Linked DNA regions of Homo sapiens. The protein of the gene in region 1 interacts with the protein of each later gene in a pairwise test. Each region holds a gene or a part of one and is shown in the gene's direction. Other genes may lie near its edges.

Region 1 (4,606 bases):
CCAGCAGCTGGGGCTACAGGCGCGCGTCACCACGCCCGCTAATTTTTCTGTTTTTAGTAGAGGCGGGGCTTTACCATACTGGCCAGGTTGGCCTTGAACTCCTGACTTCGTGATCAGCCCACCTTGGCCTCCCAAAGTGCTAGGATTACAGGCGTGAGCCACCATGCCTGGCCGAGACCCCATCTCTTTAAAAAAAAAAAAACGGTTTATTTAAAAGATTTTGAAAATTAATATGCTTTAGTCAGAGAGGAGAAAGCTGATCTGAAAAATTATCTTTAACAGGTTTAGAGGCTTTGTGGTGGATAATTAACTTCAACGGAAGGGTTTTTTGCTTTTGGAAAAGACTTAGTGACAAGGTTGTTTATTTTGTTGTTGTGTTTTTTGTTTTGTTTTGTTTTGAGACAGAGTCTCACTCTTGCCCAGGCTGGAGTGCAGTGGCGCAATCTCGGCTCACTGCAAACTCCACCTCCCGGGTTCAAGCAATTCTCTGCCTCAGCCTCCCGAGTAGCTGGGATTACAAGCGCCCACCACCACGCCCGGCTAATTTTTGTATTTTCAGTAGAGACGGGGTTTCATCATCTCGGCCAGGCTGGTCTTGAACTCCTGACCTCGTGATCCACCTGACTCGGCCTCCCAAAGTGCTGGGATTACAGGCGTGAGCCACCGCACCCGGCTGTTTTTTTGTTTTGTTTTGTTTTGTTTTTGTTTTTGTTTTTTTAATAGACACATTGTCTCACTCTGTCACCCAGGCTGGAGTGCACTGTCATGAGGCACCATCATGGCTCTGTAACATCAACCTCCTGGGCTCAGGTGATCCTCCTGCCTCAGCCTCCTGAGGGCTAATTTTTAAATTTTTTGTAGAGTCTTGCTTTGTTGCCCAGGCTGGTCTTGAACTCCTGGCCTCAAGTGATCCCCCTGCCTCAGCCTCCCAATGTGCTGTGGGATTATGGGCATGAAGCCACTGCGACTGGCTGTAATTTTCTTTTGAAGCAAAATGAAAGCAGGAAGGTTGGGATAAAAACTCTTAAGTAATGGAGAAGTTCAGTTAAGATTGGTTGGATCCAGGGGCTCTGGCTGTGTCATCCAGACTTTATCTGCATCTCTCAGCTCTGCTTTTCTCTGTTGCTTTCATTCTTAGACAGGCTCCATATTGGTAGGGAGTCAGAGGGGGTGCTGTGTCTTTAGGTTGCATCCTACCAGCTTAGCAATCCCAACTGAAGGAAAACTTCTGGAAAGATTGTTTCTATTATATAAGCATATAGGAGCAGGTGTTGTCTCTGCTTCTATGGAAATCTTTAAAATAGGCCAGAGTGGCTAGGGGTCTGTCTGTAGTTCTTGGAGGCTACTGCGTGACCCAGGTAACTTCAGGGTCCTTTCTTAATTTTGTGGTTGCAGATTTATAAGTCTCTAGGACTTCCCATTTCTCTGTCTCACATCAAGTACATTAGGAAGATGTCCTTGGCCGAGCACGGTGGCTCACACCTGAAATCCCAGCACTTTGGGAGGCCAAGGTGGGTGGATCACGAGGTCAGGAGATTGAGACCGTCCTGGCTAACATGGTGAAACCCCGTCTCTATCCCGACCGAGACCATCCTGGCTAACACGGTGAAACCCCATCTCTACTAAAAATACACACAAAAAAATTAGCCGGGCATGGTGGCAGGTGCCTGTAGTCCCAGCTACTCAGGAGGCTGAGGCAGGAGAATGGCATGAACCCGGGAGGCAGAGCTTGCAGTGAGCCGAGATCGCGCCACTGTACTCCAGCCTGGGCGACAGAGTGAGACTCTGTCTCAAAAAAAAAAAAAAAAAGATGTCCTTGATTATTTGCCTGCTTGATCTAAAGTAATGGTAATTGAAAAGGAAGGTGAGGGGAAAGAATAGTAGTTCTTTTTGGTGTCTTTGGGATGGCGATATCTGGATGAAGAAGGACAAAGAAACTCACCACCTGTGAGCCCCTATAGTTCATGAGCAGTAGCTGGAATGTAAATAGTTGGAAAATTAGCAGTATTTTGCCCAGTGACAACCTACTAAAAACCAAAATACTCCTTTTAGGTTTGGCTACTGCCCTCTGTCTTGTTCTTTGGCCATTAGCTTAAATAGATTTATAGCCAGGAATTGTTTTTATCTTCTCCCAAACAAGTAAGTGGAAAGATGAAAAATTACTAATATTTTTTGTCTCTGTTCTCTGTTGTTAGCCACTCATTTATTCCACAAAATCCTAGAGTGCTTAACATCATTGAAATCTAGGTTAACTCATGTAGAATCAACAGTTAGGCTGTGGGCTCCAGGTACTTCTTTCTAGATTTTGCAACAGGTTGAGTTTGGGGAGATGCCCATGTATCCTCTGGAAAAGCAGACGCTATTGTAGATGGAGACCACAAACAACTTTGGCCTAATTCAGTCTCAGGTGGGCATGAGGGCAGGCATTAGAGTTGGTCTTGGTCCAGTCCTAACTCCCTTTTCTTGTTTGAGTCTGCACAGTTGCTAGTGTTACTTGTGGGTTGAAAAGCACATGTAGGCTACAGTGTATGTCTTTTGGAGCTGACTGGGATAAGAGTGAACAGGAAGGTGATGATTGACCTGTGCAGAGCATGCACTGTCGTCTTTGGGGCTGCATTCAGTTTAGTAGTTAGAACATAAATGCATGTCACCATTCCTGATGGCTTTGCTCCTGACAGCCTTATGACAGGGAAATTACCAGCGAGATCCACTGATCCAGCAGTAGTTTGAGAATTAAACATCTCAACCTGAGTCTTTAGCTGTCACTTTGCATTATTTCTTCCACTTATAAAATGGGGCCAGGCACAGTGGCTCATGCCTGTAACTTCAACACTTTGGGAGGCCGAGAGGGGCAGATCGCTTGAGCTCAGGGACCAGCCTGAGGAACATGGCAAAACACTCGTCTCTACCAGAGATACAAAACTAGCTGGGCATGGTGATGTGCTCCTGTAGTCCCAGCTACTTGGGGGTGCTGAGGCAGGAGGAGTCCCAGCTACTTGGGGGCACTTAGGTGGGAGGATCACTTGAGCCCGGGAGATAGAGGCTGCAGTGAGCCATGTTTGTGCCACTGCACTCCAGCCTGGGCAATAGAGCAAGACCCTGTCTCAAAAAAAATAGTAATAAAAATAAAATAAGATGAGACTATTTCTCCCATTATGAGGATAACTCTCTTTTGGTAACTTTGAAAATGCTGTAACAATATTGCCTAGAAAACAGTCATTTGACTTGTGTAGGCCCATGACAAGATGGGAAAAATTAACTCTGAGGCAGGTTTTCTACTTCCTCACTTTTCCTGGTCACCCGTTTGATATAGTGGTTATTGCATCTGAATAATAGTCTGAAAGAACTGAATCAGGCACCCCAAGAATGTCAATTTCTTACATTCTCACCCTAAGGACTCTTAATTCCATCTGTAGTGACCAAGTTATGGCTTAGGAAGTTTCATGTTGGGAAGATGGTACATGGTCCTCATTTATAGCAACCTTTTAGTTAGAAATGAATCATATTTATATTCTATGATGACAGCTGTTCCCTGAGAGTGAAAGGTACATTTTGTCCAGAGGCAGCAATAGAACAGTAGCCTTCTTTGTCCATCTTTTCTCGGCGTAAGACCCAGTTCTGGGGCCTGAAGGCTAATTGGCCCACTTGAAGGAATCTCTGATTTCTGCCTGCATTCCAACATTGGCACCAAAATGTAGCCATGGAGATTTAAGAATTCAGTGCTATGGCTTGCTTCTCTTGGTGTACAAGTTATCCTCTGCAACCTGTGTCTTCAACTTTTTGTAGTTCTCAACTATGTCAGTTATCTCATTATTTTAGGACATTATCCTACTTGAAATATAGTCATTCTCACGTCATTCCTGTCCTCGTTATCCATTGAAAACTGAGCTTTCTCTTCAATTTGGATCGAATTCAAAGATTCAGAAGCCCTAATGGTATGTAATTGAGTGCACTGAGGGCTTCAGTTTTCCCTTAGAGAAAATGGGACAAATACCAGCCTGCGTAGGTGTTTAGACAGGCCAGGAAGGCTTAGGCCATATAGATTCTGAGGACCCAAGCTGAAAATAGTGTCATTTCGGTGTGTACAAGGATCAGGGAGGACGTAGATGTCTCCTCTAGGTTTTATAAGGCCACTTTACAGAAGTAGTTATATAAAAGGTAAACATTTGTGCGTAGGCTGTGTTGCCAGTTTGGGCATTAGGAGAAATTCTAATTCCTCATTTTCCCTTTGGCTATTAATTCTGTTTAATATGCTCAGACTGACCATACCACCACCCGCAGATGGGTATTGCAGCATTGGAACAGGTGCTGAGTATAGTAGGAACTTTGTTTGGTGGCCATGTGACAGGTGGCTTAATAGACCCTTTTGGGTAAAACTTCTTAACTGCATTTAGGTTTCTTCCATGCTCTGCTTTCTGTTCTGGCCTGGCCACGTGACTCCTGCTTAGTGTTAGTATGTTTCCTGGTTCCTCACCTATGGCTGTCATGCGAGGAAAGACTTAAAATCTCGAGTTTTAGTACACTTGGAAAACCTCTGGGGCTGTGTTTGTGTACACACATACTCATAAAGGCACTTTTAGCCAGGACTCCTTTAAAAAGAAAAAAG
Region 2 (4,606 bases), on another chromosome or scaffold:
CAGTCACTAGCAAGACTCATTTTGTCAGCCCCATCCCTGCATGTGAATTTGGCCCTTTGATTTTCATGCAAGGGGACAGCACTGCTCTGTTGATCTCAAGTTCCCGTCGAGTATGATAGTTTTATCGACACCCTGGCCTCACTTCGCCGCCCCTACCCTTCCTATCACATCTCCACACTCGCAGGAGGCACCACCTCAGGCAGCTCTGTCTTCTCGGCAAGGACCTGTGCACAGTCAGCCCTGGGGGGAGCCTGTCCCCCAAGCCTGGCACGGGATCCCAACTCAGCAGCTTTGGGACCTCCGAGACCCAAAGATCTGCCTGGTCACCCACCCCTGCCCAGATCCCTGGTGTAGGGCACTGGAGAGCAGTTTCAGGGGAGGAAGGGGCAGAGGTGGTAGAATGGGGGATCCCGGCAGAGGCAGCCCTGGGGCCGTCTCCTCGGGGTTGGTAGGCTAGTGCCATGGGCCCAGGACCCAGCCATCCATGGGAAGACGGCCTCATGGCAGAAACTTCCATCTGTTCGAAATGGCTCTTTCTTTTTCCCCTTCTCCAGCACTAGCGCACCTGCGCTCTCTTTCTCTTTTTCTCCCCTCTCCCTCCCCCTCCCTGTCTCCCCTCACCCCCCAAGTGTAGCCTGTGTAGTCCTGGCCCTGGGTGTGGCCTGGCAGTGTCAGGGCCGAGTGGGGGTTTCTCCCCACTGTCCGGCAAGCGTCGGTCAGCCGAACACTGTGTGCCTGGTGGTGTGTGTTCACATGTGTGCGTGCGTGTGCCCGGCAGAGCAGCAAACAGCTGCGCCCGAGAGCTGTGGCGCTTTCCCTCCCTACCTCCCTTCTTCCCTCCATCCGCTCTCCGACCTCCCTCCGTTCCCTGTCCCTCATCCATCCAGCTGAAGGGCTCGCTCACTCTCTTCTCCTATGCTGAAACGGTGCGTGGGGCACTGCTGCCTGGACCTCACTGTGCTCTGCTTTTTCCCGCAGCACTCCCTCAACATCCTGGGCCAGAAGGTGTCGATGCACTACAGTGACCCCAAGCCCAAGATCAATGAGGACTGGCTGTGCAATAAGGTACAGGGGCGGTGGGCAGCAGTTGTCATGGACAGAGACAGCAACAGCAGTGGCGGCGATCTCTCCCTTCCTCTCCCGCTCTTTCTCCCTCCATCTCTCCCCCTCCCCCAATCTCTCCTCTCCCTCTGTCTCTCTCTCTCTCTCTCTCTCTCTCTCTCATTCTCTATCCCTTGCTAGCTCAGCTTGAGTAGTCACCATTCCTAGCCAGCCATATACAAATGTGTAGTGAGCGTTCACTTGGTGCAGGCTCTGTCCTCCTAAAATGCAGTCTTGCCTGGAGTTCCAGTAGACTTTAAGGAAATATATACGTGGATGATGAATTAGTGACAGTGTAGACTTGAAGTGGTGGTGTGGAGAATGTGGGCTTCAGAGCCAGACTGGCTGAAATGAGACTATCCCAGATCGGCCTTGATTTTGGCCAAGGTGCTTAGCCTCTCTTTGCCTCACTTTCCCCATCTCTAAAATGTGAATATTAATGACACCTCTCCCAAAAGGTGGTTGGGAGGATTCAGCTGTGTTAATGAGAGAGTAACACTCAGAACAGTGCCTGGCCCACATTTAACACAGTCGAATTGTTAACTGTAATCATGAAAGAAAAGCACAGAGCGTTCTGAGAGCCCATAGCAGGTAGCTCAAGCCTGAAGGCCACTCTGACCAGGCCAAGTCAAACCTGAAACTGGAGGCTGTGGTTTTGTAGTCACCTCTGTCTTCCCTGAGGGGAAGCTGAGGCTCAGAGAGGTGGAACCATGGGTGAACCTTTAGCTGTGCCCTGTGCCTTGCTCCTGATCACAGGGACTTGGATGCCACAGTGGCTTCAGGTCTGCCCTGGGGCCAGCATTGTGATTCCACAGTTTGTAGAGGCCCCAACCCTCTCCCCAGGAAGTACTCTGCCTAGTCAGGGAGAGTGGTGCATCTGTTTTAAAAAAAAAAGTCCCATCAGAGGATTGGTGCTTAACATTTCTGGAGAGATAAAGACAAAGTGACAGTGGAACTCCTTCCTGTGTTTCCAGATAGCCTCAAAACCAGGGAATTCTCTTTTTTTTTTTTTTGAGACAGGATCTGGCTCTGTCGCCCAGGCTGGAGTGCAGCAATCTGGGCTCACTGCAACCTCTGTCTCCAGCGCTCAAGCCATCAGCCTCCAGAGTAGCTGGGACCACAGGCGCATGCCACCACACCCACTAATTTTTGCCTTTTTATTTTTATTTTTTTTGGTAGAGACAGGGTTTCGTCATGTTTGCCAGGCTGGTCTTGAACTCCTGAGCTCAAGCAGTCCTCACGCCTCAGCCTCCCAAAGTGCTGGGATTACAGGCGTGAGCCACCACGCCCAGCCCAAAACCAGGGAATTCTCTTGAACTCCTTCCCCTCCCCTGCATCCTGTTGGCCACCAGGTCCTGTCACTTCCATCACAGAAACGCCACCTTCCCTCCCTCGCCATTCCCGCTGCTCATGCCAATCGTCACGCTCTCACCCACTCACTGTGGAGCCCTCTCTGGTATGCTGGCCTCTTGTCCTCTTTCTCCCACGCCCTCACCTGGAACATTCCTCAAAACCACCTCTGACTACCCACGCCTCTCCTCCTCTGCTTAACCAGCCCCAGCTCAGCTTAAGCATAAGATCCTCCATTACCTAACTGGCTTCCTTCCCCGGCCTTGGCTTTTGCTTCTCCCCTTACTCTCCCACACCAGTTTCGGAAAGTCCATTGTTCCCTCCGATAACAATCCCTCCCCAGCAAGGCTTAACAAAATGAAACTTCTGGGCATCCCAGGTCAAACCTCCCTGCTTCTGTGCAGGGACTGTCCCTGCCGAGTAAATGGCACCCCACCCCCAGCCCATTTCCCTCCCCGAGCCCCTGCTGGATGGTCCATGCAGACCGACCTGCCCCTCTTCATGCTGCATCTGCCCCTGTGCTATTAGGCCATGAGGGCAGAGACCATGTTCTGGCCATGTGCAGCAGGGCCTGGCCCAGGAGTGGTGCTTAGTACCTGAGTCTGGAACAGAGATGGAGTGTGGTAGAAGCTGGGTCTCCAGATGCTGGAACATTCAAGGAAAATTTCTCAAGCGTAGCAGGATCCAACCCAGTCCTAGAGCTAAGAGGAGGGGTGCGGGTCTGGCTACTGACTTCTAGGGCTGAAACACTGAAAGGTTTCTGAATAGAGGAGCAAGTTTCAGGGAGAGGAACCTAATAAAGGGATTGAATACCTGAGGCGGGGAACAGTCCTGGGAGTTGGTGGCCTTAAGAAGGCAGAGGAAGGAGAGGAGGGAGTTGTTGTACCAAATGGGGGAGTTGTTTATTCCTGAGCTGAGTGGGTTGGCACAGAGGACAAATGAGAGTCTGGAAAGGGAAGATGCACAGTACTGAGAACAACATCAGAAGGTTCAGAAGGCACCTGCCACCATTGCCTAGGGGCTTTCCTTCCTGGGGCACTGCGGGGTCCCTGGGAGATCTCTTCATCCAAGTTTGGAGGGTGCAGTGGGAAATCCCTGCTCCCTCTGACGGCCTGGCCTGTGCCTCACAGTGTGGCGTCCAGAACTTCAAACGCCGAGAGAAGTGCTTCAAATGTGGCGTGCCCAAGTCAGGTGAGGCCCACCTACCTCTCGTGCTCTCCAGGGCGGAGCGGTTGGGGAGAAGGGAAGGGTGAGGGGTCTGTGCTCAGGGCTTGGTATAGGGAGGAGGGTGACCAGTCGTGGAGCCTTCCCCTTATCACCAGCCTGTCTCCCACTGCCCCTGACAGAGGCAGAGCAGAAGCTGCCCCTCGGCACGAGGCTGGATCAGCAGACACTGCCACTGGGTGGCCGGGAGCTGAGCCAGGGCCTGCTTCCCCTGCCGCAGCCCTACCAGGCCCAGGGAGTCCTGGCCTCCCAAGCCCTGTCACAGGGCTCGGAGCCAAGCTCAGAGAACGCCAATGACAGTGAGTCAGTTGTTCCTTCTTCCTCTGTGCCCTAGGGTGTCGGGCTGGGCTCACCAAGACCAGAGAAATGGCAGTGAGCAGGACCTCATCCTCATGGAATCTCCACTTGGTGCGGGGATAGACATTTGATGTAGGGAGAACAGGGGGAGTGGCAACATCCCACCTGACTTTGGGGGTGTGTCGGGAAGGTTCTCAGCAGACAGGCAGCCAGGCTGGCACCTGGACCGCCAAGCAGAGTTGATCCTGGAGGAAGCAGTGAGGGAAGCGGCAGTTGCAAAGGCACGGAGTGAGTGGGGGCAGAGGAAAGGGAGCAGTGGGGGCATTGAAGGGCAGGGCTGGCAAGAGTGCCAGGGGTGTCCTCTAACATTGGGCCCCTTCCCACAGCCATCATTTTGCGCAACCTGAACCCACACAGCACCATGGATTCCATCCTGGGGGCCCTGGCACCCTACGCGGTGCTGTCCTCCTCCAACGTGCGCGTCATAAAGGACAAGCAGACCCAACTGAACCGCGGCTTTGCCTTCATCCAGCTCTCCACCATCGTGGTGAGGGCGGCACAGTTGGGGGCCGGGCAGCCAGGGTCCCGGCCCCCGGGGTGGAGACGAGGGTCCTTTTCCCCAGCCTCCCACCGC
Region 3 (4,606 bases), on another chromosome or scaffold:
GAGACGGGGTTTCACCATGTTGGACAGGATGGTCTTATCTCTTGACCTTGTGATCTGCCCGCCTTGGCCTCCCAAAGTGCTGAGATTACAGGCGTGAGCCCCCGCGCCCGGCCGGGACTGAGCTTTAATGGGAGCCTTGCCTGGGTGGCTGTCAGAGAAGGGGTGGGGTGTGTTGTGACTCACCAGTAGGTCCCGAGCCCAGGTGACCTGCCAGCATTCCACAGCAGCAGGTAGCAGATGTGGGTGTGAACTTTGTGCCTTTGGAGCGTTCTGGAGGATGTTCTAGTTTGAGGTTCCCCTGAGGCTGGGCAGATTTGGGAGACATGGTGCGTTCTCCCCGAGGAGCCTCTGTGTGCCACTGCCCAGGACCCTCACTGGTCAGATAAGGCTGGGGTGGGGTGGGCACGTGGCGACCCCTCCCTCGTCAGATCAGGCAGGAAGTGTTCTCTTTGGCAATTGAGGAGCTCGCCGTAGACTGTCCAGGTTTTGGGAGATAACCTGGTACTGGAATTGAAGTCCTCCTCTTCTCTACCCATAGGGGTTGTGTCCACTGTGGTCCCCGACTCTGCCCACAAGCTGTTCATCGGGGGCTTACCCAACTACCTGAACGATGACCAGGTAACTTCCCTGCCTCCCTCCAGACCCGTCCCCCCACCCCGCCCCACCTCATCCCAGCCCTGATGGACTCTCGGCTACTGCAGGTCAAAGAGCTGCTGACATCCTTTGGGCCCCTCAAGGCCTTCAACCTGGTCAAGGACAGTGCCACGGGGCTCTCCAAGGGCTACGCCTTCTGTGAGTACGTGGACATCAACGTCACGGATCAGGTGAGTCCCCGGTCGCTGGCCGCTGCCGCGTCTGTCCTTCCCTGCCCTGCGCTGTTGCCAAGCCATGGTCTCCCCTCCTCAGGGGACGGGGCGGGAGGCGGCCAACCTGAGGCAGTGCCCTGTGTGTGGGCTCGTCCCTGTCCCATGGCGTTGGCTTTTTCCAGGCTCTTAATCCCCTTTGCCTTCCCCTCTTCCCCCACCAATGCCCCGGCTTGGGGGTAGGTGTCGGGCTCCTGGTCCCTGACCCCACCTCTCCCCGCACCCCCCGACCCCTCATCCTCCAAACACAGGCCATTGCGGGGCTGAACGGCATGCAGCTGGGGGATAAGAAGCTGCTGGTCCAGAGGGCGAGTGTGGGAGCCAAGAATGCCACGCTGGTGAGCCCCCCGGCACGTCATCTTCCATTGGCTTGAGGGACCCTGGGGGTGGGAGGGGCTGGCTAGTAGGGGACAAGTGTTCCTGATCTTTCTCCCAGCTTTCATGGGAAGGCATTTGGGGGGCATTCAGTGCAGTGTTGGGGAGTCGGGCTTTAGGTGTTGGAAGTGGAGAGATGGCCTTTCCCCTGGGGGGGCATGTGAGGGGCCTAGGCTTGAGCAGAGGGAGACTGGGTCTGGGCCCCCTGTGACGCCGCTGCCTCCCCTGGCCCCACAGAGCACCATCAATCAGACGCCTGTGACCCTGCAAGTGCCGGGCTTGATGAGCTCCCAGGTGCAGATGGGCGGCCACCCGACTGAGGTCCTGTGCCTCATGAACATGGTGCTGCCTGAGGAGCTGCTGGACGACGAGGAGTATGAGGAGATCGTGGAGGACGTGCGGGACGAGTGCAGCAAGTACGGGCTTGTCAAGTCCATCGAGATCCCCCGGCCTGTGGACGGCGTCGAGGTGCCCGGCTGCGGAAAGGTCAGGAGGCCTCGGGCTCAGTGCTCTCTCACCCTCTGCCCCTCCTCTTCTCCGCGCCCTCTTTCTTCCTCTCTTGCTCCCTCACCCTCTCCCCCTCCTCTTCTCCGCGCGCTCTTTCTTCCTCTCTCTCTCCTCTCGCAGCGCGTGCGTATAGGTGTATGCCATCACTGAGTGCCGCCCTCAGGCCGGGCCATGGGAGATGTTGGTGACCCTGAGGGGTTTGTGGCCCTGTGGGGGCCCAAGACCTGCAGGCGAGACAGTAGTTGGGGAATGTAGCTCTGTATCGCTGTAGAACTTGGCCCTGCTCCCCCTTATATGGCCTGGCTTGTGCAAATGGTTTTGCCTGGTCTGTGGAGTGGGGAAGAGTGCCGGGAACAGTCCCGAGACACCTGCTGGTGTCTCCTGTGTGCCAGGCACCCTGCCGAAGCTGTGTCTGTGCTCACCCTGAGCCCTCCCCGTAGCCCCTGAGCCCCATCGTGGAAGGAGACAGGCACAGCGGGGGTGGCTCACACTGGCAGGTTTCAGGTTCTCGGAGTCTGATTTCAGACTCTGCTAAGTCCTGTCACCTCCAGCGCCGTGACAGGTGTAATCACCTCACCTCTCTGCCTCATGAGATGGTGGTGGTGAGGGCGTGTGACCTGCTCTTTGATCCCCTTGCTGGGTGTATGTATGGAATTCCCATCGTACCAGGCTCTGATCTAGACGCTGAGGGTTCAGTTGTGAATAGAGGTCCCTGCTGTCCGTGCACCCTGCTGTCCCGTGCACCCTGCTGTCCCGTGCACCCTGCTGTCCGTGCACCCTGCTGTCCGTGCACCCTGCTGTCCCGTGCACCCTGCTGTCCCTGCACCCTGCTGTCCGTGCAGCTGTTAGAGGACCTGCATGCCGTATTGAGTCGGGGCAGGGGCCGCATTCCTGGGTGTACTGTTCGTTCAGGGTGGTCAAGGTCAAGAGGTGGCAGTGAGCAGGTGAGTGAGCGAGGTGGTGGGGCCAGGGCTGAGTGGCAGGCCTTGGAGGGCTGCCTGGGTCTTGGAACGACCGCTTATTTTGAGCCAGATGGGAGGGAAGCAATACTGAGAGGCCTCCAGGGTGGTCACGCCTGGCAGATGGAAATGACCCCACATAGTGAGGTTGGGGGTGGGTGCGGAGGCACAGCAGGTACTTCCCCTGGCCCTGGCTTCCCTGCTGAGCCCTGCAGGGCAGGATGTGGATCAGCAGGAGGGCAGAGAGGGTGCTGTGGACAGGAGGGCTTGCCGGGAGCTGGCAGGGTTGGTCTTGCCAAAGCGATGCCACAGCCAGGTTTGTCAGGACCAAGGCTGGCTCTGCAGGGCCAGATCGGGCGTGGGGGCCTTCTTATGTCATGGAAGCAGCTCGGCTTTCCCCTGGAGTTGGTGGCCTTTTGAAGGAGAAAACAGGACTGTGGTGGTGGCATTTTTGAGGTGATTGTGGCTGCAGTTGGGAAAATGAATGAGGTCTCCCGCAATAATCTGGTGAAAGATGGTGATCTGATTTAAAGTAGTAGCAGGGGATGGAGAGAAGTTGATGGATTTGAGGGAGACTTGTGCCTGGGAAGTGTCCAGACTTTGGTGATGGGTGTGGGTTTGTGGGGAGGGGAGGAGAAGGCCTATGAGCTGCTTAGTGGCAGCTCTGATGGTGGGGATGGCAGGTGAGATGCAGGGGTGATGAGCACCTTGTCGGGGGTGAGCGGGGGGTGGGGGGCAGCTAGCTGGCTTTGCGGTTTCTGAGACACCCAGTAGAGATGTCAAGGAAAAATTAGCTGGACAGGTCTGTGTTCCCAGCATGAGGGCTGATGGACACTCAGGTGTCTGTCGAGGCCCTGCTTGGGATGTCGGAGTGGTTTGCCCAGGGAGAGCAGGGTTGGGGAGGGCGGCTGGAGAGGTGGAAGGAGCATCTTAGAAAAGGGGCATGGGGAAGGCCAACGGCATCTCCTCTCACTGCAGCTCCTGCCCACTGCCCTCCAGAGTCCCCTTCCCTTGAGCTGGTATGTCAGGGCTGCTCAGGGCTGCCCTCTGGTGCTGGGATGGAGCTTGGCTCAAGCAGGGGCTGAGGAAACATTTGTGGGAAGAAGGAATGGAGAGACCCTGGCCTTTGGGATCAGCTGACCTGTTTTGCATATTAAATTTATTGCATCGGCGGCCCGGCGAGGTGGCTCACGCCTGTAATCCCAGCACTTTGGGAGGCCGAGACGGGCGGATCATGAGGTCAGGAGTTGGAGACCAGCCTGGCCAATGTGGTGAAACCCCATCTCTACTAAAAAATACAAAAATTAGCCAGGCATGGTGGCGGTGCGTGCCTGTAATCCCAGCTACTCAGGAGTCTGAGGCAGGAGAATTACTTGAACCCGGGAGGCGGAGGTTGCAGTGAGCCAAGATTACGCCACTGCACTCCAGCCTGGGTGACAGAGCAAGACATGGTCTCAGAAAAAAAAAAAAAAAATTACTGCATTGTATTGTTTTATTCTTAAATTTTTTGTTACATGTCTTTTCAAATATACTTAAAAGTAGGGACTATGATAGTGATACGTTTTTATCATAGTATATGTGCTAATATTTTGGTGTTCCTTCATCTGGCTTCAAGTTACCAATATTTTGTCATTCTTAATTTTCATATTCAGCTTATTTCTCCCCCCTCCTTTTTCTTTGCTGGATTATTTTAAGGCTTATCAGGTTTATTTCACCTGAGATCCTTAAGTATATTTCTATTATTTCTCAATTAACATTTTGGGTCAGATAACTTCTCTGTGGGGGCCTTTGCTGTGCGTTGTAGGATATTGAGATGTATCCCCAGCCTCCACCCACCGGATGCAAGAGCACTACTCCCTGCTGAGACACCCAAAAGCATCTCCAAAGATTGCTCAGTGTTCC
Region 4 (4,606 bases), on another chromosome or scaffold:
AGAAGGTGTGGTACAGGTGTGGTGCAGGTGAGCAGGGGGGTACAGGTATGTACAGGTGAGGTGTGTTACAGGTACGGTGCAGGTGATCAGGTGTATACAGGAATGTACAAGTGAGGAGGTGTGGTACAGGTGACCAGGTGTGTACAGGTATGGACAGGTGAGGAGGTGTGGTACAGGTGTGGTGTGGGTGAGCAGGAGTGTACAGGTATGTACAGGTGAGGAGGTGTGGTACAGGTGACCAGGTGTGTACGGGTACGGACAGGTGAGGAGGTGTGGTACAGGTGTGGTATGGGTGACCAGGTGTGTACAGGTATGGACAGGTGAGGAGGTGTGGTACAGGTGACCAGGTGTGTACGGGTACGGACAGGTGAGGAGGTGTGGTGCAGGTGTGGTATGGGTGACCAGGTGTGTACAGGTATGGATGGACAGGTAAGGAGGTGTGGTACAGGTGACCAGGTGTGTACAGGTATGGACAGGTGAGGAGGTGTGGTACAGGTGTGCTATGGGTGACCAGGTGTGCACAGGTACGGAAAGGTGAGGAGGTGTGGTGCAGGTGAGCAGATGGTACTCCCATTGCCCTGCAGGTGTACAAGCAGAAAGTGAAGCACCTGCTATATGAGCACCAGAACAACCTGACAGAGATGAAGGCTGAGGGCACTGTAGTCATGAAGCTGGCACAGAAAGAGCACCGCATACAGGAGAGTGTGCTGCGCAAGGACATGCGGGCACTGAAGGTGGAGCTCAAGGAGCAGGAGCTGGCCAGTGAGGTGGTGGTGAAGAACCTGCGGCTGGTAGGTGTGGCGGGGGCACCTGGAGGCTGACAGGTTGTTGGGACGGCAAGCCTAGTGCTGCATGAACTCCTGTTTATTCAACAGCAACTGGGAATTCATATTTCTGCATAAGACTTTCTGCATTTTTGCAATTTGTTGAAAAAAAATTTTTTAAAGCATGCATCCAAACAAACCCCATTTTGGGACCAAGTACACAATTCTGTCTCAGACCTGAGCAAAAAATTGACGTCACCGAAGAGAAAAAATCCAGCTTAGGATCTTTCATGTGCTGCTGACACCTGACACCCAGAGACTTTTCCTAGGGAATAGCATCATATGCATTTAGTAGAATGCAAACCAACCATTAAAATATCCAGTGTGTTGACTCCTGGGCACTGTGACAGTTTGTCACACAAGCTGGTCTGATTTTTACTTTTGAGGCTGGGGGTTTCCAGGGCACCATTAAAATTCATCTGTGCACCTGGTTCAGTGGCTCACACCCAAAATCCCAGCACTTGGGAGGGTCAGGTGGGAGAAGTGGTTGAGGCCAATAGTTTGAGACTAGCTTGGGTGAAATAGTTGAACCCCATGTCTAAAAAATTTAAAAGAAAACATTAGCTGGTGTAGTGGCACATGCCGATAGTTTCAGCTACTTGGGAGGCTGAGGCGGGAGGATCCCTTGAGCTCAGGAAGTCAAGGCTGTGGTGAGCTAGGATTGTGCCACTGCATTCCAGCCTAGGTGACAGAGTGAGACAAAACAAAAAGGAAAGAGATCATTTGCTGAGTGTCCATTAGCTGCTAGGTCCTGATCTGATCTCTGACAAAACGCCTGCCCGACTGGGGCTGTTGGTCTAGAAAGGAGAGACAACAGGTGAGTTGGAAGACAAAATAAACGTGCCAGATACAACAGAGTATCTGGTGGGGAAGAGTGCCATAGAAGGATCGAAGTGGGGAGAGGTGGGGTGCGGTTTTGTACAAGCAGTTGACCGGCTGGGAGACGGGATGGGCCAGTGGGAAAGCTCAGAGTGACCAGGAGGAGACTGTGGGAGAGGGTCAGAGCTTGTCCGCCTCGAAAGCCGTGGTGGGGACTGGAGACGGGTCAGAGCTCGTCCGCCTCGAAAGCCGTGGTGGGGACTGGGACTTTGACCCTGGTGGAGTCTGTTGCCCTCTGAGAACTTGGGCAGAGGAGAGATGTGTCTCACTAAGGTTCTTCCTGGCTGCTGGGTTGAGGAGACTTTCTGAACACATTTGCCTCACGCCTGGAAGCAGTCCAGCCTCCACTGAATCTGGAAGAAACTTGGTGACGTTGCTGACTTCGCAGCAAAGCCTGAGAGTGCCGAAGTCTTGAGCCCTCCAGAATTAGCTGGTCTTAACCCAGGTCCTGGATATGATATTGTTACATAATCAGAGTTTCCTGTTGGGTAAAAATATGGCTTTAGGCCGGGTGCGGTGGCTCACGCCTGTAATCCCAGCACTTTGGGAGGCCGAGGAGGGTGTATCACGAGGTCAGGAGTTTGAGACCAGCCTGACCAACGTGGTGAAACCCCGTCTCTACTAAAAATACAAAAATTAGCCGGGCGTGGTGGCGCACACCTATAATCCCAGCTACTCGGGACGCTGAGGCAGAAGAATCACTTGAACCTGGGAGACGGAGGTTGCGGTGAGCCGAGATTGTGCCACTGCACTCCAGCCTGGGCGACAGTGTGAGAGTCTGTCTCAAAAAAAAGAAAAATTACTGCTTTAAAAATAATTTATTTTTTTATGCAAATTTTAAATATATAATGTTTATTTAAATATATAATAATTGTTCATTAAAACTATATATTTATTTATTTTTAGAGATGAGGTCTCACTCTGTCTCCCGGGCTGCAGTGCAATGGTACAATCATAGCTCACTGCAGCCTCGAACTTCTAGTCTCAAGTGATCCTTCTGCCTTAGCCTCCCAAGTAGCTGGAACTATAGATATGAGCCACCACACCCACCTAATCTTTTTTTTTTTTTTTTTTTTTTTTTTTTGAGATGGAGTTTTGCTCTTGTTGCCCAGGCTGGAGTGCAGTGGCACAATCTCAGTTCACCACAACCTCTGCCTCCCGGGTTCAAGCTATTCTCCTGCCTCAGCCTCTCGACTAGCTGGGATTACAGGCATGTGCCACCATGCCCGGCTAATTTTGTATTTTTAGTAGAGACGGGGTTTCTCCATGTTGGTCAGGCTGGTCTTAAACTCCCGACCTCAGGTGGTCTGTCCAGCTCGGCCTCCCAAAGTGCTGGGATTACAGGCGTGAGCCACTGTGCCCGGCAATCTTTAAATTTTCTGTAGAAGATCTTGCTATGTTGCTTAGGCTGCCCTTGAACTCTTGACCTCAAGTGATCCTCCTGCCTTGGCCTCCAGCGTGCTGGGATGACAGGAATGAATCCTTTTAATATGCTGCTTCAGGCAGCAGTGCAGCAGGTTGGAAGCTACACACGGCACCTGGAAAGATCCCACAGCTCTGTGTGGATGTGGCTGCTGCTCTTCAGGCTGTGGGATGGTTTGGCGATGGAACCAAGCGGGTTCAGTGCTCACGACGTCTGTTCATGTTCTCTCTCAAGCTTAGAGGTGACTTTAGTTGAGGGAGGTGAGTTAGGGAATATGGAGGTGACCAAAACCATGAGGAACAGGGTCAGCCTGAAGGGAGCGGGCTTCCCTCTGTGTCCGGCTGTGTAGTAATGGCCGCTTCTCCCTGTGCAGAAACACACCGAGGAGATCACCAGGATGCGGAATGATTTTGAGAGGCAAGTTCGAGGTCAGTTTCCCGTGTGCTCATTGTGTAGGTGCCAGAGACACCCCCGCCCCATCAGAGAGGAATTTACCTCCAGAGCTTGTTAACTCAGGGAGCAAAAACTGGATTAAAACAGCCAAGGCATGCAAGAGAAAGAACATGGAAGTTTCCAAGGCCAGTGGACCCACTCAGAATCCCAGAACAACCTATTTCCATGTGAGTTTGGGAGGCTGTGATTACCACACACATTCCCACTCCTAGCTAAAATCAGTAGTTATCAGCAGGTGGTAGCTATTCAGTGCCGTGGGCAGCCTTCTTAAAATAGTCTTCTCCATGGCTCCTGGTCTGAGAAGGCTCCAATTTCAGAAGTCTCTGTGTTTTACTAATAAAGGCTGATTGTGGCTGGGTGGCCACACAGGCCTCGGTTACTGCTCACTGGGGTCAGCTGACATTCAGCTGTTGGCACCCCCAGTGCAGGGAGCGATTAGCAATGCCTGTCACTGGCAAAGGCAGGCCGACAGTGGTGTGTGTGCTGAGTGTGAGCATCAGCAGAAAAACTCAGTCTAAACCCCTTTGTTCTTCTCTTGCAGAGCTTTTGCCTGCAAGGCTGTTCTGACCACAGTGGGCGTTTTGGGCCCGTTTACAGGCTCCATGTTCTGTAGCCGTAGGGGCACCACGTCTTCCTCTGCTAAGCTGCTGTTTGCTGCTGCCTTTCAGAAATTGAGGCCAAGTATGATAAGAAGATGAAGATGCTGAGGGACGAACTCGACTTGCGGAGAAAGACTGAGCTCCACGAAGTGGAGGAGAGGAAGAATGGCCAGATCCACACGCTGATGCAGCGCCACGAGGAGGCCTTCACCGACATTAAGAACTACTACAACGACATCACCCTCAACAACCTGGCCCTCATCAACTCCCTCAAGGTGCTGTGCGTGGGCTGGGCTGGGGAGGCACACTCTGCCTGTCCTAGAATGTGGGCTGCAGAGTCCTGGGGATCCAGACCCCAGCTCTCCACCCCAACACACCCAGTACTTTTTATAAGATTGTTTGACAATGCCCCTCTCATATCCTTAACT
Region 5 (3,500 bases), on another chromosome or scaffold:
TACATAACCTTTACCCCCAAAAAAGTTTCCAAGTGCACCTTGGTAATTGCTCCCTCCAATCCCTACTCCCTCCCTGTAACTCCCTCTGTCCCCAGGCAATGACTGATCCCTGCTTTCTGTCACTAGATTAAGATTAGTGTGCCTTTTACTTTAGTTTAAATTACCTTATAATTTTACACGAACAGAATCATGCCTGGCTTCTTTCACGCAGCATCATTAATTTAGATTCATTCATAGCGTTGCATGTATCAGTAGTTGATCCTTTTTTGTTACTGAGTTGTATTTCTTTGTATGGATATGTTATGGCTCATTCATCTGTTAATACATGTGGAGTAGTTTTCAATTTGGGGCTATTACATTCATGCACAAGTCTTTGGACATAGGCTTTTATTTCTCTTGGGTAAATACTTTGAAGTGGAATGGTGGATCATATGGTAGGCTTATGGTTTTTTAGCTTTTTAAGAAACTTCCAAATGTTTGAGGGATGAATATCCCAATTACCCAGATTTGATCATTACACATTGTATGCTTGTATCAAAATATCGCAAGTACCCTATAAATATGTATAGCTACTGTGTATCCCCCAAAATAAAATATTTTAGAAAGGAACTTCCAAGCTGTTTTCCAAAATAGTTGTACCATTTTACATTTGCACCAGCAGTGGAAGGGAGTTCCAGTTGTTCCACATCCTTGCCAATACATGGCATGATCAGGCTTTTTAATTGTAGCCATTCTAATAAGTATGTAGTCCTATCTCATTGTAGTTTTAATTTGTGCTTCTCTAATGATCAACATTGTCAAGCATCTTTTCATATGCTTGTTGTCTTCATATCTTTCTGGGTAGTGTCTGTTCAAATCATGTATCTCTTTTTTAAAAGATTGAATTGTTGGCTGGGCGCAGTGGCTCACGCCTGTAATCCCAGTACTTTGGGAGGCCGAGGCAGGCGGATCACGAGGTCAGGAGTTCGAGACCATCCTGGTTAACACATGAAACCCCGTCTCTACTAAAAATACGAAAAATTAGCCGGGCGCGGTGCCAGGCGCCTGTAGTCCCAGTTGCTCGGGAGGCTGAGGCAGGAGAATGGCGTGACCCCAGGAGGTGGAGCTTGCAGTAAGCCAAGGTTGTGCCACTGCACTCCAGCCTGGGCGACAGAGCGAGACTCCATCTCAAAAAAAAAAAAAAAAAAAAAAAAAAAAAAAAAAAAAAAAAAGAAGATTGAATTGTTAATATTGAGTTTTCAGAGTTCTAGAAACAGGTCTATTATCAAATATACGCTTTGCAAATATTTTCTCTTAGTTAGTGCTTGCCTTTTTATTCCTTTAACAGTGTCTTTCAAAGACCAGAGGCTTAAATCTTGATGCGGTCTGATTTTTTTTTTATTATTATTAAGTGCTTTTTGGTGTGGTATCTGAGAAATCATTGTCTATCCCAAAAAGTCACAAAGATTTTCTCCTGTTTTCTTCTAGACATTTTAGAGTTTAAGTTTCACTTCAGTTTGTTTTTGTATAGGGTTACAATGTGTAGTTTGAAGATTATCTTTTTTACATATCCAGTTGTTACATCACCATTTGTTGAAGACTGTCCTTGCTCCACTAAATTGTCTTTGGACCTTTGTTGAAGCCAGTCGTCCATATATATGTAACTATTTCTGGACTCTGTTAGGTTCCATTGATCCGTTTGTCAGTCCTTGTGCCATTACCATACTGCCTTGATTATTGTAGCTCCCTTGTTTTTAAAAGTTTAATTAATATCCAAGTGATTCATGTATGATTAATATTACTACTAAGGCAAGAGGGCCACCCACTTCTATCACCTAGATGGAGCTTACCTCCACAGCCCCATTCTCCCCCGCTGCTGGCATGAGCTTTTCTCCAAGGCCTTCTCTTGCAGAGGAGGCTATGATGTCCAGCTGGCCCTTTTTTGGGAGTTTTGTCAAACACCGAAGAGCAAATACGGCCACTTCCCTAATCTGTGGGCACCCAGTGGCTTTGCAGGAGAAGGAGAACAGCTGAATAATTCTCTATTCCCACTCACCACTTCCCACTCTCCCTTTTACTCCTGTTCAACCTCCAGCTCACCCTACTTATCCAGGGCTGGGTTTGGGGAGTATCTGCTGTGATAGAGAATAATAACGCTAATTTGTGGGTGTTTATGAAGCACTTTCAAATGGAAACCAAGCTTCAGGAGGTCGGGGGGCAGAATACCCCATTTTATAGATGAGAAAACTGAGTGTCCTAGGAAGCTCATGAGCTGCCCAGTGTCTCCCAGCTAGGAGAGTAGAACCCTCCTTTACCCCAGGTCTTATGGCTCCACATCCGCCAGTCCTCCTTTTATACCTCAGGGACGAGTCCCAGGCTGTCTTCTCGATCTGCCTGGTAATTACTGTTTTTCAGCTGTAGGGCTTCCTTGTTCTGGGGCCCCAAGGGAGGAAGGTAATTACATCCTTCAAGATGCCCTTAGTCAGCAGCTCCAGGTCAGTTCCTGTGACCAAGCCCAGCTATGACCTTTGTCTGTCCTTTCCCCTTCCCAGGCCAGTGGCTTGGAGAGTGTGATTGGATCCCTCTGTTTCTCTCTTTGGTTGGTGCTGTTGGTGGCATCTGGCCAGCCCTTCCTTCACAGAGTGCCCATGAATTCTCTGTATTCAGGCAAATGGGTGCCCTCGGTCATAAGAAGGCACAGAGGGAAAGCTTGCAAATGTCTCACTGCCAGCCCTGCCAGCTATTAGAAAAATTATGGCACTGACTGGCAGGGTCCTAGGATGGGCCTCCTTGAAGAAAAAGCAGTCCTGCCTCTTAATAGGGTACCTGTGACTCATGAGCATCCATCTCATCTGCTCCCCACTTCTATCCCTGCTACCCGCAATCTGTTGGTCACACGTAGCCAGAGTTCCACAGGGCCTGTCTCTTTCACACGTATGCACAGCCCACTTACACATCTCAGAGGCTACATACTGCTTTTAGAAAACAGGAGAAGCCTTTATCATGGCCTTTGGGGCCCTGCAGAGTACCCCTGCCTGCCTCCCCGGCCTCGTCTCAAGCCAGCTCTCTCTCATGATCCCCTCTCCAGTCCTTCTGGCCTTCATTCTGTTCTTCCGACCTCACCATGTTTTCCACTTTCCACAGGGCCTTTGTGTGTGCCTTTCCCTCTGCTTGTACTGCCCTTCTCCCGCACCCCTTTGCCTGGTTAGTTCTTACTTACCCTTTAGGCCTTCAGGTCAACCATCACCTCCTCTGAGATGCCCTGTCCAGTCCTTCAGCAAAGTGGGGTGCCATGGTCATACACTCTTGGGGTTCCTTGTTATTTTCGTTCAGGACACTTTCATTGTGTGTAATTGTAGGTTTCTGTGATGATGATGATGATGATGATGATGATGATGATGATGATGATTTGAAACGGAGTCTTGCTCTGTCGCCCAGGCTGGAGTGCAGTGGCACAATCTTGGCTCACTGCAACCTCCCCCTCCCAGGTTCAAGTGATTCTCCTGCCTCAGCCTCCTGAG
Region 6 (4,606 bases), on another chromosome or scaffold:
CAGCCAAAGCACTTTTTCCCTCTCTGAAATGGATGCTACATCACACCACAGTCCTGGGTGCCGTTAGCTAAGAGGGCAGCTTTGTGACATCAGAGGCCGCTCCATGGTGGGGGCCTAGTTCAGCCATACTGTTGTCCCCATGTGCCTCTTTTTTTTTTTTTTTTTTTTGAGACGGAGTCTCACACTCTTGCCCAGGCTGGAGTGCAGTGGCACGATCTTGCCTCACTGCAAGCTCCACCTCCTGGGTTCACACCATTCTCCTGCCTCAGCCTCCCGAGTAGCTGGGACTACAGGCACCCACCACCACATCCGGCTAATTTTTTGTATTTTTAGTAGAGATGGGGTTTCACTGTGTTAGCCAGGATGATCTCGATCTCTTGACCTTGTGATCCGCCCACCTTGGCCTCCCAAAGTGCTGGGATTACAGGCGTGAGCCACCGTGCCCGGCTCCCCATGTGCCTCTTGTTTTCCCAGGTGTTGTCAGGTTATGGGCAGTGCCCTCCTGGAGTTACACAAAGTTAACAGTATCCAGTCTTGCCTTTACATGCACACGGAACTGACTTACAGTATTTACTGCCTCAGATTACCTGAGAAAATAATTGCGAGGACTTTTTTGAAGAATGACTCATCTGAGCTGACATTTAAAACGTTGTTACCTTCTTATGAGTATAATGTTGTCTGTATCCAAGACTGCAGGTTATCACTTAAGGGTTTGCTAGTGAAATGAGTTAATATTATCACCTGTGTCACATTTACTTGGGGTTTTAAAAAAATTTCTAACAAGAGGATTTGTTTTCTTTTGGGGAATGGAGAATGAGGAATACGTAGGAAAACTGAAAGTAAAATTATACACCAAATGTGGTGGGTGTTGCAAAATGTTCATCTTTTCTTTTCTGCCATGTTGAAAAGTCTAAACTCCCTCTGCAAAATCATCGAAAGCCTTCATGTATTAGGTAGTATTTTTGTGTATGGATTAGGTTCTTACCATGATTTGGAGAGATAAGTGAGACATGGAACTTCGTATGAATCATACCAGCTCACTGGCCATCGTAGATTCTCAGCCTGATGGAGAAATTTCATTTTTGATTAGCAATATGCTCCTTCTCCACTGAGCTGCCTCCCTTTCATCTTTTCTTCCCCCACATAAGCATGCCACTTGAAAGAAACACTGTTTTATGCTTATAACTCTTAATTAACTGTGGTTACCAAAAAAAGAGGGTAGCATGAATAGAGAAAAACTTGAAGGTTGTCCTGAGCTTTATTTTTCCAATTTCTACCTTTCACCAAAGTACCATCTTTTTAGTGATGCCAAACATTGTTACGTTGTTGACTTGTTGTGTGTCTTCTTTTTTTTTTTTTTTTTTTGTATTTACAAGATTCTAGTAAAGCATGAAGTGCTTAGAGACTTGTAGGAAGTAGAACAAGGCAAGGCGAGTTCTCTGGGTGACCTGGAAATTCCCTTGAAAACCTTGTCAGTTTTCTTCCTCAGTTTTCTAGAAGCAGAAAAGACAAAGCCACAAATTAAAACTATGAACCACATCTTCCGCCCAGCATGCTTAGTTTTTTCATGAGCTGTGATCGGTTCAGCCAATGCGTGTACTCCCAGGCTCTCAGACTGAGCCAGCCGCCCGTCCTGGAGCCGGCACTGGGCCCGCGCCCGTCCCCGACAGATGGCCATCCAGCCCTGCTGGAGCGCAGCGTCGGTTCGAGTAGGCCAATCCCATTTTTGGCGAAAACAGATTGTTAGAAAGCTCTTCCTTAAATAGAATCAGATTTTTACATTTCTTTAACTTTCTTCCTTCCTTTGGCTCTTATTCTGCCCTCTAGGCCTGTGCTGAGTAGGTCAGATCCTCTTCTGTAGAGTGTCAGCCCTCCCATAGGCTTGGTCTCAGTTCAGGCAAGCAGTTCTTGGGAAACATTCCTGTTAAGCATTAGCTATTGTAAAAATACAGAAAAAATGATGTTCTGAACCCCTTTATTGAGTATAGCAGTTGATCTTCATAGCCAAAAGGCCCTTGGGGATCAGTATCCCCGTCATGAGGGAGAAATATCCCCATGGTTAGTATATATTTTTTGTTTTGATCTCTTTATCATGCTCACCTGGAGGTTTTTGTTGGACAAAGGGATGTTGTTATCTCAGCATGAGTTTTCCCTTGCCCTGTTGAGCTGCATCCAGTGGAAGAGGAGGCACCCCCGATCAGGTCTCACCATCATGCAGTAACTTCTGTGCACTTCTGTGCAAAGCTTATAGATGTGGCGTTGCCAAGAAGGAAAGTGAGAATGCTTTCCATAGCCCCTCCTGCCTCTCATTAGTTGCATTTGTGTGTGTTTGTGTTTTGTTTTTTGTTCTTTGTTTTTTGGGGTTTTTTTTTTGTTTTTTTTTTTGCTAAAAAGATAGGAGCCAAAGTGTTCATGGCTTCCTATTACTGTTGGTGATGATAATTAAACAGGTATACCATCAGAATGACAGTATGACTTTAGGCCAATTGTGCAGCCTGCAGAAATTATCCCTGCTGTGTATTAGGCATGGAAACAGCATCAAAAGTACACCACATGTATACTGACCACGGTTTGTTTTTGTTTTTGTTTTTTGAGACAGGGCCTCACTCTGTTGCCTAGGCTGGAGTGCAGTGGCACAATCCCTGCTTACTGTAGTATTGACCTCAGGTGATCCTCCCACCTTAGCCTCCCGAGTATCTGGGACTACGGGCATGCACTACCACACCCAGCTATTTTGTATTTTTTATAGAGACAGGATTTTGCCATGTTGCCTGGGCTGATCTTTAACTCCTGGGATCAATCTAGTAACTCATGGCACCACCCACATTTGCCATTTTTACTGCTTTGGGAGTCCACCTAATTCATAAATCCATGGTAAGATTCCTTCCTGCTTTGGAATAAAATGGCACCGGCCTCCCCAGCAAAACCACAGTGTTGTGTATTGCATCTCCAACTGTAGATTACCCTAACTCTGTGTAGTTCTCTCCTGCTTTCTTGTACTCATTTGCTGTCCTGAAGTTGTTAATAAACTTAATTTTGTCACATACAGTACTTTGTTAAGAGTAGCTTGAGGAAAGACGTGAGAACCTTTGACAAAAAGCTCTCTCATGAAAGTATTTACCTGCTTTCTTTCTCTGCAATAATTTAAAATTGATAAAAGCAACCTGAGCTCTTATTTTCACATGGGCAAAACATTTGTATACTGGATCTCTTCTCATATTCAGCTTATGATCATGAATAGTCAGAACTTTGCCACAGATAACAGGGAACAATGATCAAGAACTGTTTCTGCTGGCAGAATCCAGTTGATGTTTTTGAAGGGCTCAGACTGCACAGCTCTGAGCTCAGTGGAGAGCGGTCCTGGGCTGAGGTCTGGCCTTAATACTGCAACTCCACTTAGAAAATTGTGCAGGCGAGGTGTTGTAAAAGCACTATGCTACATCTTTTGAGATGGGGAAGCTGCTCCCAGGGAGGTATTTTTCAAAGATTTTCCCTCAAGCTACTGAAGAGCAGTTTTTTGTTACTACTTTATGACACCAGCTGGAGCCTTGCAAAGCCCCAAAGGTTAATTCTCTTTTCGGTGGTTAACATAGGCTTAAGGGCTGACTCACATTACCCAAAAAGTTACGGTTCCATTTACAACCTGATCATATCCTCAGGAGGGTTTGTTCACAGGCCCACCTGCCCGTGGCTCACCCTGCCACCCTACCTACCTGGGACTTCTGCATCCAGCGTCACCTGCCCCAGGGCTCACTCCTCAGCATTCCTCCCAACAGGACCACACCTAGGCCTAGCGTGGTTAGAAACTTGCATGATCAGCCCCAGAACTCCTGCCTCTGATCCAACCCAGACCTGGGAGCACAGAGGCTACTGAGAGGGCTCCCTAATGCTAACTGTGAAACAGCCTTTGCACTGGTTTGAGCTGATGCTTTTGGATGGGGACAGGGTGGCTGGCACCCGTGGGTGAAATTGACAGGGTTCTGAGAGGCATATCCCTGCTAGGATCAACTTTGGAATTGAACTGATCAAAGTCACAAGGAGTACAGCTGTAGGATTGTTACGTAAGATCCAAAAGCAGTGAAAAGCAACACTTGGTGTTAGAATTAAGATTACAGTACTCTGGAGGGAGGGAGGCAGAGCCTCAGTGAAGGTACAGGGGCTTCTGTCTTGGTGATCTGCCCTGGGGTCTGTGGGGCAGGCTCACGGGCACACCTGCCTTGGAGGAGTTTGCAAAGCTGACTGCTTATTTCTGTTGGTATTATACTTTCGTTTTTAAGAAATTTATTTTAGAAAAATGTCAGTTCAAAACAACAATCAGGGCTGGGCACGATGGTTTATGCCTGTAATCCCAGTGCTTTGGGAGGCTGAGGTAGAAGGATCAGTTGAGGCCACGAATTTGAGACCAGCCTGGGGAACATAGCAAGACTTCATCTCTACAAAAAAATTTTTTAAAAAATAGAGCATGGTGTCATGTGCCTGTGGTCCCAGCTACTCAAGAGGCTCAGTTGGGAGGACTGCTTGAGTCCAGAAGTTGGAGGCTGCAGTGAGCAGTGATTGCAACACTGCACTCCAGCCTGGGCCACAGAGTGAGACCCTGTCTCAAAAA
Region 7 (3,707 bases), on another chromosome or scaffold:
AATGTGCAGCACCAGCATCAGTAACTTTGAGGAGGCCAGAACCAGCTATGGCACAGATGAGGACATCCTCTTTGTCTACTTGGACAGCTGACAGCAGGAGCCTGGTGCGCCTAGGCCCTCGGACCCCATCCCCACCCCAGCCGGGCCCGCTCAGGATGCCCTGGCCCAGGCTTGGGGCTGCTGGGGTTGGAATGTGGAACTGCAGCCTCAGCCCATCTGGCAGAGTCCCAGGAACTCGGAGACTGGCACAGCTGCTTTGTCTGCCAGTGCCGTGTGTTGTCATGTCACTCACCCCAAGCACCTGCTGGCTGCTGGAAGCATACCCCAAGACCCCAAGCCTTGACTCCAGCTGCGCCCACAGGAAGTCCAGTCCCGACAGTGCCCTTGTTGCCTTTGAGCCAGATCCATGGCAATGGTCTCCCCACAGACCGCAGGACTGAGCCTGGAGAGAGAAGTTGCTTGACGGATGCCACTTGTCAGGACAGTATGTGAGTGTCTGGAGACAGCATAGCTGACCCCAATCCCCCAGGGCTGAGGACCCCTCCAGGCCCCTCTCTCCTGGAAGTGCTGCATATGCCCCTGTGCCCAGTGGTTGATGATACCACCACCACCTGCCTACCCATGGGCCCAAGTTTCTGTGGCTCATTACAGGGCATCTGACCCCTGCCACCCAGCATAGACACACCTCACAGCTGCCCTGCCATGCAGAGCCCTGGCCGCTGGAGACTCTTAAAGCCCCCACAGCCCTCCAGGTCCTCCAGCTCTGTCAGATGGAGGGCTCTCGGGCCTAGATCCCACTGGTAGGCCTCGTGGCTGGCAGCAGTGCTCTGGGAATAAACAGCTGCCCTAGCCCCAGAGGGATCCCTGCACCCAGGAGGCCTCCTGACACCAGCCAAAATCCTGACAGCAGGGTCTGCCCTCTTGAGTGTGGGGAGCCCCTAGTCCTTTAAGGTTGGCTGCTAAGGCCTGTGCTCCAAAGCAACGGGCTGGGGCAGCCTGCAGCTGCCCACCCAACCTGGTCTTCACACCAGATTGCACAGGATACTGGGTCTTGTCTATCTTGATGGAGAAGAGGGGTTCCTGCCCAGGATCTTACAACACAGCAAGTAGCATAGAGCTCTTTCCTTCCTCTTTTTTGGGGAGGTTGGGGTCAGGGGTTGTTTCTTTGAGATTTAAGTTTTCATTTTTGAGGGGTAATCACCTTCAAGTAAAACAGTAATAGCAAGAGTGAAGGTACTTTGGAACCACTAACACCTCTGCACAGGGCAGTTAGCCAGCTCAAGTTCTTTTTCAGAGAAAGGGACTTGGCCAGTGGTTTAAGTACCTGCCCCTTCACCTCTCAGACGAGGCAGCTGACGAGGCAGCTGGCCCAGTCTTGGGAGTCTGCTCAGGACAGTGGTGGAGCTGGGTCTTGAACCCCAGTCTGCACCTAAAAAACTAAAGGAAATGGATTTTTTTTTTTTTTTTTGAGACGGAGACTCACTCTGTTGCCCAGACTGGAGTGCAGTGGCACGATCTTGGCTTACTACAACCTCCGCCTCCTGGGTTCAAGCGATCCTCCTGCCTCAGCCCCCCACTAGCTGGGACTACAGGCACATGCCACCATGCCCGGCTAATTTTTTTGTATTTTTAGTAGAGACCAGGCTTCGCCATGTTGGCCAGGCTGGTCTCGAACCCCTGAGCTCAGGTGATCCACCTGCCTCGGCCTCCCAAAGTGGGAAATGGGTCATTTTCAAAGGGGCAACAGTGATACCATCCCTGCACTCCTGGGTCCTGCTCTTCCAATGCCCAAGGCATGGCATGGTGGCAGCTGTGCCCCCGCCCATTGCTTTGGAGCACAGATGACTCTGGGGGCAGAGGTGGGCTCTGTTTAGGAGGGCAGTGAGACCACCCAGCCAAATTGCTTCTCAACCCTAGACAAAGCCTTTGGCCAAGAGGGAGGTGCTGTTAGTTGGGCAGCCCTTCTGGGTTTCAGAGACCGGTGTTGGCTCTAGACTGGTCTCATCTCCATTGCCTTAATGCCAGGTGGCCCAGGAGTACCCATGCACAGCAGCTGTGGGGTGTGGGCATCTTCAGGTGGTGTTCTGGTAAAATTGTTAGAATAGCTGTATGAAGGAAACCAGTGGGAGGAAATGAAGTTTTCAGGATGGTGGGATGTGATTTAGACAGTGCACATGCTGTTAGGGCTGTCACTAGGGAGTGGCCTTCATGGAGGGTGGTAACAGCACCTCAGTCCAGCCAAAATGTTTAGAAACACTCAGTCTCTGGTCCCAGAGGATGGCTTCTCAGGGCATGCCACAAGTTAAAGGTCACCTTCCTGAAAGATGAATGAGAAAGCTGCCCATTCTCAAGACTCATCTGCCTAGGGAGGGTCACAGAGGCAGGATGTAAGACACACTGTGTTGCATTCTTGCACAAGTCATGAAAATGGAGCCAGAGAGCCTGGACATCAGGGACTTTTGCCCACAGCACATGACACCGACAGCTGCCCAGCCTGTTCACATGCTGGGGACCAGCACAGCACCTGAAGCCATGTGGGACAGTTGGGCTTTGTTCATTCTAGCCACGGGGATGAAAGGGATCTTTTGCATTGCAGAGATTTTATATATATTTTGTTTGTAATGAGCCATTCTCAATAAACATTATTCTCACTGCAAAATGGTGGTAGCCCCTGGCTGGCCTTTATGAAGCTGTGTTGATCTGCAGAATTCCTGTCCCTTCTCAAGTTCTCAGCATGAGCACATGGGAACCCAGGTCCTTGTCTTGCCATACCCAGTTTAGCTGGGACTGGAATCCTGTTTTCTGTTTTCTAGGGCCATATCCATCCCGTTCAGGCCTGGATGCTTGTGCCTGTCCTGGACAGGCAGTACTAGAGGTAGAAGGGCCTCGGGGCTCAGCTCAAGTGAACTGCAACAAATGCAACTACAGGAGACACAACAGAATGAGGGAGATGTTGAAGCAGGAGAGACGAAAGTGGGTGGGATGGTGAGTGCTGGGTGGAGCTGGCTGCTCAGAGCATGCAGAGTTGGGGTTGAGGTAGACAGACCAAGAGTGCAGTAGTGCGATCTCGGCTCACTCCAACCTCCACCTCCTGGGTTGAAGCAATTCTCCTGCCTCAGTCTCCTGAGTAGCTGGGATTACAGGCACACACGACCACGCCCGGCTAATTTTTGTATTCTTAGTAGACACAGGTTTTACCATGATGTTGGCCAGGCTGCTCTCGAACTCCCAGCCTCAAGTGATCTGCCTGCCTCAGTCTCCCAAAGTGCTGGGATTACAGGCATGAGCCACTGTGCCTGGCCAATGTCATCACTTTTAAAGAAGCACTTCTGTTCCTTCCCATCCTCCCTCAAACACATCATCTTGTCTGTCTCCACTGCTATAGCCCCAGTATCTGACACCTAGTAGATGTTCAGTAAATGTGAGTGAACGGATAGTAGGCTAAAACAATACCTGTTTCAGCAGCTTTCCTGTACTTTTCAGAACTAAAAGTAATCATTAAAGGGGAGGCAGAAGGCCGGGCACGGTGGCTCATGCCTGTAATCCCAGCACTTTGGGAGGCCAAGGCGGGCAGATCACCTGAGGTTGGGAGTTCGTGACCAGCCTGACCAACATGGAGAAACCCTATCTCTACTAAAAATACAAAATTAGCTGGGCATGGTGGCACATGCCTGTAATCCCAGCTACTCAGGAGGCTGAGGCAGGAG

The links.
Region 2: the proteins of CPSF7 (region 1) and RBM10 interact in binary tests that used the Homo sapiens proteins (3 or more experiments, as listed by UniProt).
Region 3: the proteins of CPSF7 (region 1) and U2AF2 interact in binary tests that used the Homo sapiens proteins (3 or more experiments, as listed by UniProt).
Region 4: the proteins of CPSF7 (region 1) and DRC4 interact in binary tests that used the Homo sapiens proteins (3 or more experiments, as listed by UniProt).
Region 5: the proteins of CPSF7 (region 1) and SMAD3 interact in binary tests that used the Homo sapiens proteins (3 or more experiments, as listed by UniProt).
Region 6: the proteins of CPSF7 (region 1) and NCK2 interact in binary tests that used the Homo sapiens proteins (3 or more experiments, as listed by UniProt).
Region 7: the proteins of CPSF7 (region 1) and GUCD1 interact in binary tests that used the Homo sapiens proteins (3 or more experiments, as listed by UniProt).

What each region holds. Positions count from the first base shown.
Region 1 is NC_000011.10:61,405,261-61,409,866, reverse strand, and holds part of CPSF7 (cleavage and polyadenylation specificity factor subunit 7), read left to right. Parts: intron 1-4,606.
Region 2 is NC_000023.11:47,175,522-47,180,127, forward strand, and holds part of RBM10 (RNA-binding protein 10), read left to right. Parts: intron 1-978; coding exon 979-1,065; intron 1,066-3,581; coding exon 3,582-3,642; intron 3,643-3,797; coding exon 3,798-3,974; intron 3,975-4,024; exon of another isoform or gene 4,025-4,260; intron 4,261-4,358; coding exon 4,359-4,519; intron 4,520-4,606. UniProt on the Homo sapiens protein: Binds to ssRNA containing the consensus sequence 5'-AGGUAA-3'. May be involved in post-transcriptional processing, most probably in mRNA splicing. Binds to RNA homopolymers, with a preference for poly(G) and poly(U) and little for poly(A).
Region 3 is NC_000019.10:55,667,969-55,672,574, forward strand, and holds part of U2AF2 (splicing factor U2AF 65 kDa subunit), read left to right. Parts: intron 1-538; coding exon 539-618; intron 619-701; coding exon 702-824; intron 825-1,114; coding exon 1,115-1,213; intron 1,214-1,475; coding exon 1,476-1,724; intron 1,725-4,606. UniProt on the Homo sapiens protein: Plays a role in pre-mRNA splicing and 3'-end processing. By recruiting PRPF19 and the PRP19C/Prp19 complex/NTC/Nineteen complex to the RNA polymerase II C-terminal domain (CTD), and thereby pre-mRNA, may couple transcription to splicing.
Region 4 is NC_000016.10:90,032,134-90,036,739, forward strand, and holds part of DRC4 (dynein regulatory complex subunit 4), read left to right. Parts: intron 1-584; coding exon 585-791; intron 792-3,499; coding exon 3,500-3,554; intron 3,555-4,247; coding exon 4,248-4,453; intron 4,454-4,606. UniProt on the Homo sapiens protein: Component of the nexin-dynein regulatory complex (N-DRC), a key regulator of ciliary/flagellar motility which maintains the alignment and integrity of the distal axoneme and regulates microtubule sliding in motile axonemes.
Region 5 is NC_000015.10:67,159,602-67,163,101, forward strand, and holds part of SMAD3 (mothers against decapentaplegic homolog 3), read left to right. Parts: intron 1-3,500. UniProt on the Homo sapiens protein: Receptor-regulated SMAD (R-SMAD) that is an intracellular signal transducer and transcriptional modulator activated by TGF-beta (transforming growth factor) and activin type 1 receptor kinases.
Region 6 is NC_000002.12:105,855,685-105,860,290, forward strand, and holds part of NCK2 (cytoplasmic protein NCK2), read left to right. Parts: intron 1-4,606. UniProt on the Homo sapiens protein: Adapter protein which associates with tyrosine-phosphorylated growth factor receptors or their cellular substrates. Maintains low levels of EIF2S1 phosphorylation by promoting its dephosphorylation by PP1.
Region 7 is NC_000022.11:24,539,390-24,543,096, reverse strand, and holds the end of GUCD1 (protein GUCD1), read left to right. Parts: coding exon 1-91; 3' UTR 92-2,659; downstream 2,660-3,707.